Homo sapiens: one gene and its partners. The protein of the gene in region 2 purifies or fractionates together with the protein of the main gene of each other region. This does not show direct contact. Each region holds a gene or a part of one and is shown on either strand. Other genes may lie near its edges. The genes, in order: ZYG11B, SLAIN1, DCAF10, PLS1 and ZER1.

Region 1 (3,519 bases), on a different chromosome or scaffold from region 2:
GAAAAAGAAAAAAATTAGCTGGGCATGGTAGTGCATGCCTGTGATACTCAGGAGGCTGAGGTGGGAGAATCACTTGATCCCGGGAGGCAGAGGTTCTAGTGAGCTGAGATCACGCCACTGCACTTCAGCTTGGGTGACAGAGAGAAACTCTGTCTCAATAAATAAATAAATAAATAAAACACTTTCATTCAACAACTATTTGCTGAGTCCCTACTATGTGCTAGACATCACCAAGTACACAGGATACAGATCTCTGTAGATTCACTGCTGTCTATATGAATGGCTGTTAGCTGAATTGTGCAGTACAATCTGTATAGCACAGCAGCCCTGTAAGACCACTGTAAACTAGCAGGGCCGAAACTGCAGGCTCCACAAGGATCTTAAGGAGTTCACAAATTCCCATGCATATCAAGTACACTCTGTACACAATAATATCTTGATATTTTTAATGCATAATAGATGTTAGACTTAACAGAGTATCATTTTAAAATATTACTGAATTCCTACTGGACCTGCTTTTTGCTTTTTCTCCCCCACAATTAATATGTTCTGAAAGTATGTTACTGTCCTGTCTCTCAAGGTTTTCAGTGTTAAAAAGGTATCTTCACAGGGTCTATTGTCTCAGACAATAGGGAGGAATTTAAAACTTCTGAGTAGGAAGACCAAGGCAGGCAGATCACTTGAGGTCAGGAGTTCGAGACCAGCCTAGCCAACATAGTGAAACCCCATCTCTTCTAAAAAATACAAAAATTAGCCGGGCATGGCAGTGGGCGCCTGTAGTTCCAGCTATTCAGAAGGCTGAGGCAGGAGAATCACTTGAACTCGGGAGGCGGAGGCTGCAGTGAGCCGAGATCGCGCCACTGCACTCCAGTCTGGGTGGCAGAGAGAGACTCTGTCTCAAAATAAAAAAAATTCTGAGTAGGAAGAGTGGCACGCCTCCAGTCTTTTCTCATTCCACCCTTGCCTAGTTACTATACAATTTCTTTTTCTTTCATTTATGAGCCTGAAAAATCTTAATCACAATTACTTAGTGTGAGAATAATACTTGTAGCATTAAGTTTGTCAAAGAAATACTTAAGTGCTGAAGACATATTGTTCTTCAAAGTGCTTTAGAAAAGTGATTTGGGCCGGGCACGGTGGCTCATGCCTGTAATCCCAGCACTCTGGGAGGCCGAGGCAGGCGGATCACCAGAGGTTGGGAGTTCGATACCAGCCTGACCAACATGGAGAAACCCCTCTCTACTAAAAATACAAAATTAGCCAGGCATGGTGGCACATGCCTGTAATCCCAGCTACTAGGGAGGCTAAGGCAGGAGAACCGCTTGAACCTGGGAGGCGGAGGCTGCGGTGAGCCGAGATCGCGCCATTGCACTCCAGCCTGGGCAACGAGAGAAACTCCGTCTCAAAAAAAAAAAAAGTGATTTGGACCGGGCGCAGTGGCTCATACCTGTAATCCCAAAACTTTGGGAAGCCAAGGCGGGCGGATCACCTGAGGTCAGGAGTTCAAGACAAGCCTGACCAACATGGAGAAACCCTGTCTCTACCAAAAATACAAAAATTAGCTGAGCACGGTGGCACATGCCTGTAATCCCAGCTACTCGGGGGGCTGAGGCAGGAAAATCGTTTGAACCCGGGAGGTGGACGTTGTGTTGAGCCCAGATTGCACCATTGCACTCCAACCTGGGCAACAAGAGCGAAACTCCATCTCAAAATAAAAGAAAAAGAAAAAGAAAATTGGTCAGAGAGTGTGTACAATTTTGTGGTTCTTGAACTCATACTGCCAAATCACTTTTTTTTTTTTTGGAGCCAGAGTTTCACTCTTGTTGCCCAGGCTGGAGTGCAATGGCGCGATCTCGGCTCACTGCAACCTCCGCCTCCCAGGTTCAAGTGGTTCTCCTGCCTCAGCCTTCTGAGTAGCTGGTATCACAGGCATGCGCTACCACACCCAGCTAATTTTTTATTTTTTATTTTTTTTTGAGATGGCAACAGATTGAGACTCTTTAAAAAAAAAAACCTTTTATTCCATTGTTAATAATGACTATTTCTACCGCTTATTAAATATACTTTAAGAGCTAGTTTTAGGACCTATGAAAAAAGCAGTGTTTTAGCCAGCATTTCCCAATTCATCTACAGGCTCACATCATTACATTCAATATTGATGTCTGCCGGGCTCATGGCTTGACATCCCAGCACTTTGATGGGCTGAGGCAGTAGGATCACTTGAGCCCAGGAGTTTGAGACCAGCCTGGCAACATAATCTAGACCCTACCTCTACAAAAATAAAAAAAATTAGCTGGGCATGCTGGCATATGCCTGTGGTCCCAGCAACTCAGGAGGATGAAGCAAGAGATCATCTAAGCCCAGGAGTTCATGGTTATAGTGAGCTATGATTACGCCCCTGCACTCCAGCCTGGGCCACAGAGCAAGACCCTGTCACTATGAAAAAACAAAACAAAAAAAAATTATGTCTATTTCAATTTGTATATTTTTGAATATTTAATAATTATCTAAAATTTTCTCCTTTATAAAAATAGAATAGTTTGAGAGTATCCAACAATTTATCTACTGAATGTGTGTCAATTAGTGGGAATTAGGAGAATGGCTCATGATAAAGTCATTGCATTGTTATAACTTAATCTGAACACTGAATGCAGTAGCTTTTCTTTGTATAACAAACTGTTAAAGACAAGAAATATAAGTACATTGATGATGAAATACAAGAATGAGTACATTTATCTGATCATGATTCTTAAATGATACATCAAGATATCTCTGATTGATTGATTGATTGATCTTACAGTGTCTTGCTCTGTTGCCCAGCCTGGAGTGCAGTGGTGTGAACCCTGCTCACTGCAGCTTCAACCTCCTAGGCTCAAGCAATCCTCCCACCTCAGCATCCTGTGTAGCTGAGACCCCAGATGTGCGCTAATTTTTTCATTCTGTGTAGAGATAGGGTCTCACTATCTTGTCCAGGCTGGTCTCGAACTCCTGGGCTCAAGCAATCCACCCACCTTTGTCTCCCAAAGTGTTGGGATTATAGATGTGGATTACAGGCGTGAGCCACCATGCCCAGCCTCACAAAAACTATACAAAAAATATACTCTTGGAAATCATTAAGCATGACCTCTAGAACAAACACATTTAATAAAAAAGAATAAAAACTAACATTCTATTTAAGAGATATTACTATTATTTTGAAATCAGGGAACCTATAAAAGGTTTGATATACAAATTTTACCACAGAGTAAAATCTGATAAAACTTTCTCAGTAACTTAAGATAATTTTACGTACAGAAATTCAATGCAAGATACTCTGAAAATGACTAGAATGATGATCCTACAGAGAACTAGCTGAGGCTTGTTTGTAAATTTTACTGAAATAGGAAATAATTCTGTCTTTGTATACAATTGCTTCCACGCATGAGCTTTATCTAAGGAAAATAACCTCCTATGTTGGGTTAATAATTTTTTTTTTTTGAGATGGAGTTTCACTCTTTTTGCCCAGGCTGGAGTGCAATG
Region 2 (3,519 bases):
ACACTAAATCCTTATGTGGAAATAGAAAATTGAAAACATTTCTAACGTAGAAACTCAAAATAAATTTTCATTATTATACAGGCATGTTGGCTTTAATCAAAGTAAGATTGATTTACTTTTTAAAAATGGATGTATAAATAGGACCCTAATTCACAAATTGTTTATTTTGTATATATTTTTTATTTAGATAAGTGGAAGTCAGTTAAGATAGTCCTATGAAAAGTTGCTTTGTCTTTTTTTTTTTTTTTATTCTCTTCCCTTTCTCCTTCTGACAAGTCAACATATGCTTCCATATAGCTAACTGCTGCTATTTTCTGCTTCTGTGACAGCTAGCCGATGGCGGAGTCTCTTCTCTTCAACTGCCTCACTGGCTTTTCCTTATAGTCCTGTTGCAAGACTCAGCCCTTATAGCAATGGCATTAATACTCCCAGCTTCTCTAAAACCTCAAATAAAGCAATACTAACACCTGAAAAAACAGGTAATATTTTAACTTCTTGACTAGCTGCTTGCTTTGTAATTCAGTTACTAAACACGGCTTAAATATTCATCTTTCATTTGAAAAGCTTGAGAATAATCTTAAGAGTGGAGAGTTTGTGCTGCACACTTACTTTGGGTACAAAAGGCCTAGCACTAATTTGTACTCTAACACCATTGATCTACTGCTCTCAATTTTATGTAGCAGACAGTCTTCCCTCTTTAGCAAAAGTATATGCATGCAGTTCTGTATTTCCAAATGCTTATGTGCTTTTAAAATTAAATGTCAAACACAATTAAGGTAGTTTTTATTATTCAAGATTGTAAGTCTGTATTTTTTTTAATTTTTTTCTGGTAGCTTTTAAATTTAGCTAAGGCTGTGTAGAAGAAAATAGTCATAGTGGCTTTTTATGAGATGAGGATCTCACCATTTTCTTATTTTTCTCAGCATTGGTATGATTCCATTCCTATAGCCTTCTTCTATTTGTTCTTTGGTTCTTTTATCTGAAGCCATTGATTTTTTTATCCTCATGGGTGGCTATAAGTCTCCCGTGACTACTCTCTGGTCTATATTATGTGGGTGTTGTATATATTTCTGCATATGTATGTGTGCCTTTTAGATGTGATATTCTTACCCATTTGTAGCACTGCTGTTTGTACTCATTAAGAAATGGACCAGATTAAAATTTAATTTAAAAATATATTATCAGTTACTGTCAGACAAGTGTGTCTTATTATTAAAGTATACATGAATATATATTCTTATAATATCATGCCTTTAGATATATACATATCTAATAGGATGTAGATTTTAGCAGTAGTGAATTTTTTATTGTGATAAAAAATATAATGTGAAATCTACCCTCTTAACAATTTAAGTATATAGTACATGGTGACTTTTTAAATTGTGAAAATTCAATTTGAAAACAATGAACAAGTGGTTTTGTATATATGAATTGTGTACACATGATGTGCACGTTGACCATTAAATGGTGACATGTTGGTGATTTTTGTAACATGAAAACATGAGACAAATTGCTGACTGTTTATATATGAATTGTGAAGCATGTATAGATATCAGTCCTGCAGATGGAAGAACACACTTTTCCTTTGTGTTTCAGGTTACACTTCCAGGGGCTCCCCACTCAGTCCCCAGTCATCTATCGACAGTGAGCTGAGTACTTCAGAATTGGAGGATGATTCTATCTCCATGGGATATAAATTACAGGACCTCACTGATGTTCAGATCATGGCTCGTCTGCAAGAAGAAAGTATGTGTTCTTTCTAAACTAGCAAAATGAGGCTTCCACTTGGAATATACAGGCAGAGGGGGAGGTTCAGGCATTTCTCTCCAGGTAATGGGCAAATAATTAGATTCTTTCTCTCATACTGTCCTACTTTTTAGGTGGAGCCAGTTATATGCTTCTCACACTATCATGAGGTGGTAGGACTTAGTCTGATGAAAACACATTGATACATGGACATTGCTGGTATTGTCACTGTGGAAACAGATGGACAGTTTCCTAAAAAACTAAAGGTGCAACTTCCATGTGGCCCAGCAAACTGCACTCTTGGATATTTATCCCAGAATAGTGGAAATTCGTGTTTACACAAAAACTTGCACGTGAATGTTCTGAGCACCTTTATAGCCCAAAACTGGAATTAGCTTAGAAGGCCTTCAGTGGGTAAATGATTAAACCAATCATGTTACATCTATACCATGGAGTATAACTCATCAATAAAGAGGAACAAACTACTGATATACACAACATCTTGCTTGAAGCTCCAGGGAATCATGGTGAATAAAAAATTTGATCATAAGAGAGTGCATACTGTATAATTCCACACATATAACATTTTGAGATGACAAAATGTTAGGAACAGAGGACAGACTAGTGGTTGGTGGAGTTAGGTATAGGGCTTAGGGTCTCAAGAGGGTCTCGAAGCTGGATGTAGTTATAAAAGGGCAACACAGGATTTTTGCAGTGTTGGTACTATTCATTGGTGGATCTTTGAACCTGTAGGTAATGAAATTGCATACAGCTTAATACTCTCTCTATCTCTTTCTGACACAGACACACACACACCCCCACACACCTGCGATAATCTGAATAAAATGAGTGGATTATATCACTGCCAATACCCTGGCTGTCATATTATTATAATTTTGCACAATGTTACCACTGGGGGAAACTGGGCAAAGTGTACAGTTTTGTTTTTTTTTAAGCACTGCATGTGAGTCTACAGTTATCTTAAAATTTCAGTTAAAATGCATTGACATACTTCTCCAGGTAAATAATTGTGAAAGAGTAGATAAGTAGAAATAGGATAGTTTTTCACTGGTTCTGCGATAAAGTTACAAAAAATTATCTGGGAGTGAACTAGTTGAAGGGCATTAATGGTATCAAAAGGCACAGAACTGGAGTGTTTGTTTTGGAGTTATCTTTTCCACCAACATAAGTAGAAATAATCAAGTATCATTTAAGCATAATAATTTCCTGTTTTCAGAATTAGTCAAGGCTTCTATGAGAAACATGGTAATGCTTATGCAGGATTTAATAGATACATTTTTAAGGGGAAAAGTGGTTATTTTATATAATTATTTAGTAAAAGCAAATTTAAATACTCTTTCTAAAAATATATATGGCTAAAAGATTGTATGTCAGTTTCAGAAGTTAAGTAGTCAGGGATAGACCACTTTTTTTAAAAATTGTAGTACTGGCAATGGGTTAAATAATGAGAACTTTGTAGTTTGACTATTTTTAGATGATTACCTTATAGGATGACCTAAAACTATTAGAAGTATTGAGGTGTCAGTGTGCTTTGAAAGAGATAATATTAGTAACATAAAAGAACAATAGAGAGATGACCTTGTGGGAAAATATTTGTACCTCGGCTTTTAAACTTTCCCTTTGACTTTAAAAGTTGGGGGTGGGGAGCAGAATGACTTCCTACTTGGGCAGAGATTTGAAGATTTTAGTTGTTTTAACTCATAGCAAACTATTCATAATGAGATGAATATTTCTTCCTAAGTTCCCCTTCTA
Region 3 (3,519 bases), on a different chromosome or scaffold from region 2:
ACATGGTCTCCTATTCACAAACCTGTTAGTGTCCCAAATAATGACATTTCCATCAAATCCTGATGTTACTAAGAGTCTTGTATTAGTATCATATTCGATGTTCTTCACCCAGCTAGTGTGACCATGTAAAGTGCATACTTTGGTGTTCAATTTTCTCAGATCCCATAGTGCTATTGTAGTGTCATCAGAGCAGGTAGCAAACAGCCGGTTATCAAGAAATCTATAAAAGCAGAAAAACAAAACCCTGGTTCATTTAATCTCTTTTTAAAGGAAAATTGATTTGAGAAACAGTCACTATATTACCTAGTCAAGAAAGAAAGAAAAAAAGGACTACACACTCACTATGTAAACCCAATGACTGATATACTATAAAAAGTATACTTTGCATAATCACAGAGCCAGGATACTATGATTTAATGACAGTCATATTGCAATTGGATCCATTTGCTTTAAATTACTGATTTTTATTTGAAATTGGAAATAGGGGTAAGTGTTTGGAAAACAGTGACAGAAGGGAAAAAAAGAACTTCAGAATCTCTATAGGAAACAAAAATGATGAGAGAGAATTTAATAGGCGATAGAGGAAGTTTTGAAGACTTGATTGCCGAGAGGGACACATTACACATAATCAAAATCATGAGAAATATTTGCTCTGCTACAAGGAACATCTTTTTCTATTTAGAACACAGTTACATACAAAAATTGCTATAAAATTGCCATTATTTTAAATCTTTTAACTGAAAGGTATTTCCCAAATAATCTCTTAGCAACATTTTATTAGGACCAATCAAGAAAATTACAAAATAGGCTTAAAATACTCTATAATTCAGACTTTTTATTATTTTACACTAACTTCTCAATCCTTAGTGAGAATATATTTAATACAAATACTTAAAAAATAAACTACTATTCACACTTGAATTTTTGCTTAATTTAACATTAGGATGCTTTCTGTAATACATGCTGTTATCCTAATCTCTTACAGAAGAAATGAATTCTGGTGCTTCTTCTAAGATAAATTTACATATAATTGTCAGAAATCAACCTCAATATCCACAAACACCATAACGACCTTCCTAAAATTGATCACGGTTTTCAAATACCAGGCGTTTACACAGGTTGTTTCTGCTAGGTGAAACAACCTTCCTCCTGCCCCTGGATCTGGCTAATTCTTGCTTTCTTTTTAATACCATCATGTGTCACTTAATGATGGAATACATTCTGAGAAATGTGTCCTTAGGTGATTTTGTTGTTGTGTGAACATCATAGAATGAACTTACACAAACCTAGATGGTACACACTGAGGTTATATGGTATATATGGTATATAGCCTATCACTCATAGGCTACAAATGTGCACAGCATGTTACCATACTAAATACTGTAGGCAACTGTAACACAATCGTAAGTATTTGTATATTGAAAGATAGAAAAAATACAGTAAAAGTACTGTATAAAAGATTTAAAATGTTACGCCTGTATAGGGCACTTACCATGAATGGAGCTTGCAGGCGTGGGAGTTGCTCTGGGTGAGTCAGTGAGTGAGGGGTGAGTCAGTGTGAAGGCCTAGGGCATTACTGTCCATTACTGTAGACATTATAAAGACTGTACACTTAGGCTACACTAAATTAATTTAAAAATTTTTCATCAGTAATAAATTAACCTTCGATTACTATAACTTTTTTTACTTCATGAATTTTTAATTTTTTAAACTTTTGACTCTTTTGTAATAACAGCTTAAACACAAACACATTGTACAACTGTACAAAAATATTTTCTTTCTTTATAGCCTTATTTTATTAACTTTTTTCTATTAAAATGTTTACTTTTTAAACTTTTTTGTTAAAAACAAAGACACACATTAGCCTAGTTCTACACAGGGTAAAAATCATCAATATCACTGTCTTCCATCTCCACATCTTGCCCCACTGGAAGGCCTCCAGGGGCAATAACAGGAACAGAGCTGTCATCTCCTGATAACAATGGCTTCTCCTGGAATACCTCCTGAAGAACCTCCCTGAGGCTGTTTTACAGTTTAATTTTTTTTTAAGTAGGAGTACATTCTAAAATAACAATAATAAGTATAACATAGTAAGTATTAGGCAATAGGAATTTTTCAGCTCCATTATAATCTTCTGGAACCACTGTTGTATATGGTGTCACTCACTGAAATGTTGTTATGTGGCATATAACTGTATTCAGCTGTTATGCCCTCCAGGAAGCCTTCCTTGTTTAACCAGCCTGGTAGACCTACCAATTCTCTGAGCTCCCAAAGCATTCTGGGAGCTTCTATCATAATACTTAATATTATACTGTAAGGAACAACTTTACTGTAAACTCCCTGAAGACAGAAGGAACCTGTCTGCCTAGGGTCATGGTTAGATCTGCAGTATACAATACACATGGTGCCAGACACATATGCACTCAACAAATACTTACAAAATAAATGAAAGAGAAGTTCACTGCCTAGCAGAAAAGACACTGTAAGTACATAATTACACGAAATAATTGTGTGGAATAAGCAAAGAGGGTGGCTGGGAAAGACTTCATGATGTTATCATTTGAACTGAATAAAAGATGAGCAGGAACTCCCTAAGTGGTCAGGGTTACTAAGCAAAGATACACAGGCATGTGAGCGGATGGTGCCCTCTGAGAAGCAGCAGTTAGGAGTGCTGTGTGTGGGAAAGTAGAGATGACTAGGGAATACATTATGGATTTATTCTATGGTGATTACCAGTAACTATTTTTTAATTATAAAAATACATTTCCTGGCCAAGCGTGGTAGCTCATACCTATAATCCCAACATTTTGGAAGGCCAAGATGGATGGATCACTTGAGCTCAGGAGTTTGAGACCAGCCTGGGCAACATGACGAAACCCCATCTCTTATTTTAAAAATAACGATAACAAAAAACATTTCTACTGAAAATATTTTTAATGAAAAAAAATCGGCTGGGCGCAGTGGCTCACGCCTGTAATCCCAGCACTTTGAGAGGCTGAGGCGGGTGGATCACAAGGTCAGGAGTTCAAGACCAGCCTGGCCGAGATGGTGAAACCCTGTCTCTACTAAAAATACAAAAAAAATTAGCTGGGCATGGTGGCGGGCGCCTGTAATCCCAGCTACTCGGAGGCTGAGGCAGAGGCAGAGAATTGCTTGAACCCGGGAGGCGGATGTTGCAGTGAGCTGAGATCGTGCCACTGCACTCCAGCTGGGGCACAGAGCAAGATTCCGTCTCAAAAAAAAGAAAAAGAAAAAAAAAATCCATCACCAAAAATAACCACTTTATTGATGTTTAGCTTAATTTCTGTTTTAAACCTAATATTATCTCAAAAACATATTGCCATTATTAAAGGTTTATTAACAAAATCATGTTTAATGGCTGAATAGTGTTCACTGTATGAAGAACTGAAACCTTTTTTCTTTTTAATTTTTTTTTTTTTGGAGACAGAGTCACGCTTTATCCCCCAGGTGCTCACTGCAACCTCTACCTCCTACATTCAAGTGATTCTCATGCCTCAG
Region 4 (3,519 bases), on a different chromosome or scaffold from region 2:
AGAGCACCCTGGTGAGTTCCAATTGCCTTGCACCAGGGAAACATGAATGTAGGATTGATTCCACAAATACTCCAGGTCACAATTACGCAGTTCCCTTTCTTCCGTCATGATAGCCAGTTGGCTTGACATGGAGGCTTGGAGCCTTGGGCATGGAAAAAACTTCCATAGAGCAAAGCACCAAACTTTAATGGAGGGCTGAGGGCTCTACTGGGGAATGCTGCTTGTAGAGAACTGTACTCTAAATTTGACTGTACCTGCTACTGAAATTCAAATTCATAGTCAAAAAGTAGAACAGTAGTTACCAGGGCCTGGGGGAAGGGGAAAATGGGGAGTTATTGTTTAATGAGTACAGAATTTCCCTACAGGATGATGAAAAGTTTGTAGAGATGGATAATGGTGATAGCTGCACAACAATGCAAATGTACTGAATGCCACTGAACTGAACACTGAAAATGATAAAAATGGTAAATTTTCTACGTCTGTTTTACCACAATATATTTTAAAAGTTAAAAATTGCACTCACATTAATTCCTGAAAGGTCAATGGCAATGGCAGGTCCATCTTCCCCACCTTTAGGGGCAATCTGATTAAGCAGATGAAAATAGGCTCTCGAGTCCTTCAAGGAAAGATATGAAATAGCATTTTTAAAACGAATAAAATCATCATTGAATTTAGGGAAAACAAGTGCTCAAACTGAAGAAATTGCCTCTATCTCAAAGAATGGAATAACTTTAAAAATAAAGAATTACTTGTAGGTTCCTGAATGTACCATGCTGTTTCACACTTCAGAGCTTCAAAGCAATCCTGTTTCACACCTCAGAGTTTATAGCAATGCTGTTTCCTGCACCTGGATACCCTCCCTTACTTTTCCATCTGTTTACACACCCAAGCATCAACATCAGTTAAGATTCAGGTCAAGTATTATCTCCCGTATGCCTTCCCTGGATTCTCTAGGATGAACTAAGAACCCCTCTTCTGTAGTGCACAGCACCCCTTGCCTATCTTAATAAGTAAACAGTGATCACACTATTAAATCATCTAATGTCATTGTCTCCAAAGATGGATATATAGTTCTTCCCCATGCATACATTAACTCTTCCCACCAAAAGGCAGAAGCTATTTCCTGTCCTCTTTAATTTGGACAGGCCTTATGATTCACGTTAACTAAGAGAATGCTGTGAAAGTGATGTTCTGGGGCTTCCACGCCCAAATCTTAAGAGCTTCTGCTTCCTCTCTCTTAAAGTTAACCTCTACATAAGAAGTCCAACTATCTGAGACTATCATGCTGTGAGGAAGCCTGAGCTCACCATGTAGAGAGGCCTTGTGGAGGAGCACTGAGGCACCAGACATGTGACTGAGGCCTTTGTGTACTTTCCAGATGAGCCCAACTGACAGCTGAATGTAATCGAGTTAGTAATCCCAGCCAAAACCATGTGAAGCAGAAGAACCACCCAGCCAAGATGCATCAACCCACAAAATGATGAGAAATAATCATTATTTAAGCAAATTTTGCATAATTTGCTATATAGCAATAGATAACTGAAATATCCCTCTGGTACATGTTTGTCTCTGAGTAGAATTGGCAAGCTTCTCAAGAGCTGAGTCTTTGCATCGCCTGGGCATAATGCCCCTCAGAAAGAGCTGAATAAATGTTTGATTAGCTGAATTTTCAGAGATTTCAGAATAAGAGAAATCTCCCAAATAAACTTTCAAATATAACAGTGTATAGTAGATGAAAGCAGAGAAATAAAATGTCACTTCAAATTGAGAGACTGTCCTGTAGGCCATTATGGAAAAAGATAACCTGACTGAAGGTTATATAGCTAAAGACGGAACATGAATTAGAGCCAGCACTGATTACTCTTGGGGGGCAGGATGGGGGAGGACATAAAGAAACAGAGAGAAGAAAAAAGTCACAGCGACCCGGCTTGGCAATGCCCATCCAGGCAGTAACCAAGGGAAAGTTGTCATTAGACAAAAATGCCTGTTATAGTTTCCTTGACAAGATTCTCCCAGTAGAGAGGGAAGTGTTTTAAGCTACCCTGGTTAAGGCACATACCTTAAGATCCCCTTTATTTACTGATTCTCTGTACCCTCAGATAATCTGATTTCCTGTTAGCTGGTTATTGGCAAAGTGGGAGTAAGAGTGTTAAACCAGTAAACAGATATAATTATTAGTCCAAATGAACAGACTGACATCCTCATTATAATCTAGCAGATCTCAGGCATAAAAAATGAGAAAGTGTGTTTTAATCTGTTGAGGCTAGCACCTCTTTCCTCTCACAGTCAGTTGTAGTTCTTATTAAAAGCCAATATATCTGGTTTTTAGAAAATATATATTTTGTGAATATAATTGGGGGATCTACTTCACACAGTAATGCAAATTTTCATTTTCTATCCCAAGTGTTCTTGTGAATTTAATTCAAATTTAAGTCTGAACCCCTTTTATTTTTACACTGCACATCCTTATTTCATGTCACAAATTTGAACATTTAAATATAAACCTTAATGTCTTGGCTGAAGTTGCTGATGGTATGCCATCCTGCATTGGTCAGATGGTAGTTCACCCATCGCAGCAGTAATTCCTCGGGAGAAAGCTTCATCAGCTCCTCTAGTTCCTCACCTTCATTTAACAATGCAATCAGAGCTGAGGGCAAAACAGCGAAATGTAAATTCTTCCCATAGCAAGTACATGTCAATGAACAGCAAATATTTCTAATGATCTTACCTTCATTCCTGGAAATCTCAATATCAGCAAAAAGGCCAACTTTGATGATCTGCCAGAGAAGTCCCAAGACCAAGTGAGGTTTTCCTTCTTTGAGATCTGATGCACCAATGTTGACCACTGTACAACCAATGGCTGAGGCAGAATTCAGAGCTAGGTTTAAATTTTCCTGAATTGCCAAAAAAAAAAGTACACATGAGGAAGTCCTTTCTAAGGTCTTATCTATAAAAATTATCTATAAGAAACAATGGACTGCCAAATTTCAGATTTATAAACATAATATTTATACAACGAAAATACCACTACTCAAAAAAAAAAACACATGGTTTTAACTGTTACTTTATATGCCAATGACTTTCAAATCCCTATTTCCACCCAGACCTCCTCTGAGTCTCCACTCTAAGCTGTGTATCTATATATGTACTTGGTTATGTCTACCTGGATGTTCTGCCAATACCTCAAACTCAACATGATATTTTTGTAAAGTGCTCATTTGGAAGCACTTCTTTAAAAAATGATGTACAATTAGGTTTTAAGATAATTTTAAAGTAACTCTTAAGATGGATTTTACAGATGAGGAAACTGCAGCACTGACAGTTTCCACAGTGGAAAGGCCGGGGTCTGATCCCAGCGGTCTCCCGAGCCCATCCTCTTTTTTATTTATTTTTTTTGAGACGGAGTCTCACTCTGTCACCCAAGCTGGAGTGCAATGGCACTATCTTGGCTCACTGCAAGCTCCGCCTCCTGGGCTCACGCCATTCTCCTGCCTCAGCCTCCTGAGTAGCTGAGACTAC
Region 5 (3,519 bases), on a different chromosome or scaffold from region 2:
CACTGGCAACGCTACCAATGTCAGCCTGTTCCTCCCAGTATGGGTTTTCAACTGAAATGTCCATCTGTACAGGATGGCACAAAGAAAGTGACTCCGTCCTAAAATGACGAGGGAGATCCATGCCTGGTGATTGGCCAGTCAGTCACAAAACAGTAGGAATTGATGCCAGCTTGACTTAAAGTAATGAAATCTGTGCATAGAAACACTGCTGGAAGGAGACACACCAAAATGTCAACAGGAGTTCTCTTTCAGGGAGTGAGATTATGAACGATTCTTGTTTTCTTCTTCTTCTTTTTTTTTTGAGATGGAGTATCACTCTGTTGCCCAGGCTGGAGTGCAGTGGCGAGTTCTTGGCTCACTGCAACCTCTGCCTTCCAGGTTCAAGTGATTCTCCTGCCTCAGCCTCCCAAGTAGCTGGGATTACAGGTGCCCACCACCATGCCTGGCTAATTTTTGTATTTTTAGCAGAGATGGGGTTTCACTGTGTTGGCCAGGCTGGTTTCGAACTCCTGACCTCAGGTGATCCGCCTGCCTCAGCCTCCCAAAGTGCTGGGATTACAGGTGTGAGCCACTGTGCCCGGCCCTGTTTTGTTTTCTTGTTTTTTTTATTCATTTTTATTTTTATTTTTATTTATTTATTTTTGAGACGGAGTCTCGCTCTGTCGCCCAGGCTGGAGTGCAGTGGCGCGATCTTGGCTAACTGCAAGCTCCGCCTCCCAGGTTCACGCCATTCTCCTGCCTCAGCCTCCCGAGTAGCTGGGACTACAGGCGCATGCCACCACGCCCGGCTAATTTTTTGTATTTTTAGTAGAGGTGGGGTTTCACTGCGTTAGCCAAGATGGTCTCGATTTCCTGACCTCATGATCTGCCCGCCTCTGCCTCCCAAAGTGCTGGGATTACAGGTGTGAGCCACTGTGCCCGGCCCTGTTTTGTTTTCTTGTTTTTTTAATTTATTTTTATTTTTATTTTTATTTATTTATTTTTGAGACGGAGTCTCGCTCTGTCGCCCAGGCTGGAGTGCAGTGGCGCGATCTCGGCTAACTGCAAGCTCCGCCTCCCAGGTTCACACCATTCTCCTGCCTCAGCCTCCCGAGTAGCTGGGACTACAGGCGCATGCCACCACGCCCGGCTAATTTTTTGTATTTTTAGTAGAGGTGGGGTTTCACTGCGTTAGCCAAGATGGTCTCGATTTCCTGACCTCATGATCCGCCCGCCTCTGCCTCCCAAAGTGCTGGGATTACGGGTGTGAGCCACCGCGCCTGACCTTCTTCTTTTTTTTAAAGAAATGGTCTCATTCTGTCCCCTAGGCTGGAGTGCAGTAGCATGATGTTGGCTCACTACAGCCTCGACCTCCTGGGCTCAAGTGACCCTCCTGCCTCAGCCTCCCCAGTAGGTGGGACTACAGGTGTGCACCATCACACCCAGCTCATTTTTTTTTTTTTTTTTTTTTGAGATGGAGTCTTGGTCTGTTGCCCAGGCTGGAATGCAGTGGCGCCATCTCGGTTCACTGCAACCTCTGCCTCCTGGGTTCAAGCGATTCTCCTGCCTCAGCCTCCTGAGTAGCTGGGATTACAGGTATGTGCCACCACGCCAGGTTAATTTTTGTATTTTTAGTAGGGACGGGGTTTCACCATGTTGGGCAGGCTGGTCTTGAACTCCTGACCTCGTGATCTGCCCGCCTCAGCCTCCTAAAGTGCTATGATTACAGGCGTGAACCACTGCACCTGGCCTGATTTTTAAAATTTTTCGTAAAGAGGAAGTCTCACTATGTTGCCCAAGCTGGTCTTGAAATCTTGGGCTCAGCTGGACGCAGTGGCTCATGCCTGTAATCCCAGCACTTTGGGAGGCCGACGTGGGCGGATCACGAGGTCAGGAGATCGAAACTATCCTGGCTAACACGGTGAAAACTCGTCTCTACTAAAAATACAAAAAAATTAACCGGGCGTGGTGGCGGGTGCCTGTAATCCCAGCTACTCTGAGGCTGAGGCAGGAAAATGGCGTGAACCCAGGAGGCAGAGCTTGCAGTCAGCTGAGATTGCACCACTGCACTCCAGCCTGGGCGACAGAGCAAGACTCTGTCTCAAAAAAAAAAAAAAAAGAAAAGAAAGGAAATCTTGGGCTCAAGTGATCCTCCTGTCTCAGCTTCCCAAAGTGCTGGGATTATGGGCAAGAGCTACTGTGCCCGGCCCACCTGTATGGTTTTCTGTTGTGTGTCTATTTTCTCCCCACCCCTCCCCACAAATCAGTAGGTATTAGTGGTTTGCAAAGAGCAGGCTTTGGGTACATGCAGATGTTGGCATGTATGACAAATGCTCCAGGCTGCACGGATGAGATCGTGCCCTTATGTATGCTCTGTGCTGTGTGCGGCTACGTATCAATGAGTGAAAGCAGAACCCTACAGAAGACCAGAAGGAAGGTGGGAGCTCTGAGCAGACCTTAATGGTATGAGCATCCTGCCCAGCACTTACCCCATATTCCACACCGCATCCCCGCTCCCTGCCCTGCCCACACCTGTAATTGATGTTTCTCCGAGAGTTTATGTCCCAGCTCTGGATGGCAGCCCACATGCGTTCCTCCACCTCCTCACGCTGGGGCTCACAGACGCCCCAGGCCTCGGGTCCATCAAACATGATGTGGGAGAGGACGCCGCAGGCATTGTAGGAAACCTCGATCCCATCGGCCTTGCTCTCCAACAGGTTGCTGCCAGGAGAAAGACAGAAAAATGGAGTCCCACTCCCCCAGTTTCTCTTCAGATACCAGCGGCAGGACCCCAACTTAAAACCAGAAGCAAGAGGTGCTACTTATTTCTTTATCCCATATCGTCTATATACCCAGACTACTTCTAAAGGGATTTGAGGTCATTTAAGATATAATTACAGGCTGGGCGCAGTGGCTCACGCCTGTAATCCCAGCACTTTGGGAGGTCAAGGCAGGTGGATCACGAGGTCCGGAGATCGAGACCATCCTGGCTAACATGGTGAAACCCCATCTCTACTAAAAATACAAAAAAATTAGCTGGGCGTGGTGGCAGGCGCCTGTAGTCTCAGCTACTCGGGAGGCTGAGGCAGGAGAATGGCGTGAACCCGGGAGGCAGAGCTTGCAGTGAGCCTAGATTGTGCCACTGCACTTCAGCCTGGGTGACAGAGCAAGACTCCATCTCAAAAAAAAAAAAAAAGATATAATTACAAAAGGACCACTTACGAAGGATTGAATGAATAAGAAACCACATTATCGAGGGAAAATGACATTTATAGCAAACCTAGGCTAAGAGCAGTTGTGCAACTGAGCAAACGCTAGAGCTCTGAGCATTGTGGCAGCTAAGGCAAAAAGGGAAAGGATTAAAAATACCAACCTGAAGACGCTGATGAACTGGGAAGTCATTAGTTGAGGCCTCAGCTCCTTCACTTCTGCCACATTCCCCAAAAGTCCTAGCATATTCCTATGCAGTTCCTGCTTCTCTGGGAATTCCTGGGAAAAGGAGAGCCAATGGGCCGCATCAATTAGTACTTAATGACTTAG

The links.
Region 1: the proteins of SLAIN1 (region 2) and ZYG11B purify together in Homo sapiens (affinity purification with mass spectrometry; one large-scale study listed by BioGRID and IntAct). This does not show direct contact.
Region 3: the proteins of SLAIN1 (region 2) and DCAF10 purify together in Homo sapiens (affinity purification with mass spectrometry; one large-scale study listed by BioGRID and IntAct). This does not show direct contact.
Region 4: the proteins of SLAIN1 (region 2) and PLS1 purify together in Homo sapiens (affinity purification with mass spectrometry; one large-scale study listed by BioGRID and IntAct). This does not show direct contact.
Region 5: the proteins of SLAIN1 (region 2) and ZER1 purify together in Homo sapiens (affinity purification with mass spectrometry; one large-scale study listed by BioGRID and IntAct). This does not show direct contact.

Annotation. Positions count from the first base shown.
Region 1 is NC_000001.11:52,732,935-52,736,453, reverse strand, and holds part of ZYG11B (protein zyg-11 homolog B), read right to left. Parts: intron 1-3,519. UniProt on the Homo sapiens protein: Serves as substrate adapter subunit in the E3 ubiquitin ligase complex ZYG11B-CUL2-Elongin BC. Acts to target substrates bearing N-terminal degrons for proteasomal degradation with the first four residues of substrates being the key recognition elements.
Region 2 is NC_000013.11:77,742,687-77,746,205, forward strand, and holds part of SLAIN1 (SLAIN motif-containing protein 1), read left to right. Parts: intron 1-329; coding exon of another isoform or gene 330-479; intron 480-1,596; coding exon 1,597-1,746; exon of another isoform or gene 1,747-1,772; coding exon of another isoform or gene 1,773-1,830; intron 1,831-3,519. UniProt on the Homo sapiens protein: Microtubule plus-end tracking protein that might be involved in the regulation of cytoplasmic microtubule dynamics, microtubule organization and microtubule elongation.
Region 3 is NC_000009.12:37,838,790-37,842,308, reverse strand, and holds part of DCAF10 (DDB1- and CUL4-associated factor 10), read right to left. Parts: intron 221-3,519; coding exon 23-220; intron 1-22. UniProt on the Homo sapiens protein: May function as a substrate receptor for CUL4-DDB1 E3 ubiquitin-protein ligase complex.
Region 4 is NC_000003.12:142,683,381-142,686,899, reverse strand, and holds part of PLS1 (plastin-1), read right to left. Parts: intron 2,895-3,519; coding exon 2,729-2,894; intron 2,648-2,728; coding exon 2,505-2,647; intron 617-2,504; coding exon 524-616; intron 1-523. UniProt on the Homo sapiens protein: Actin-bundling protein. In the inner ear, it is required for stereocilia formation. Mediates liquid packing of actin filaments that is necessary for stereocilia to grow to their proper dimensions.
Region 5 is NC_000009.12:128,737,420-128,740,938, forward strand, and holds part of ZER1 (protein zer-1 homolog), read right to left. Parts: intron 3,469-3,519; coding exon 3,353-3,468; intron 2,701-3,352; coding exon 2,512-2,700; intron 1-2,511. UniProt on the Homo sapiens protein: Serves as substrate adapter subunit in the E3 ubiquitin ligase complex ZYG11B-CUL2-Elongin BC. Acts to target substrates bearing N-terminal degrons for proteasomal degradation with the first four residues of substrates being the key recognition elements.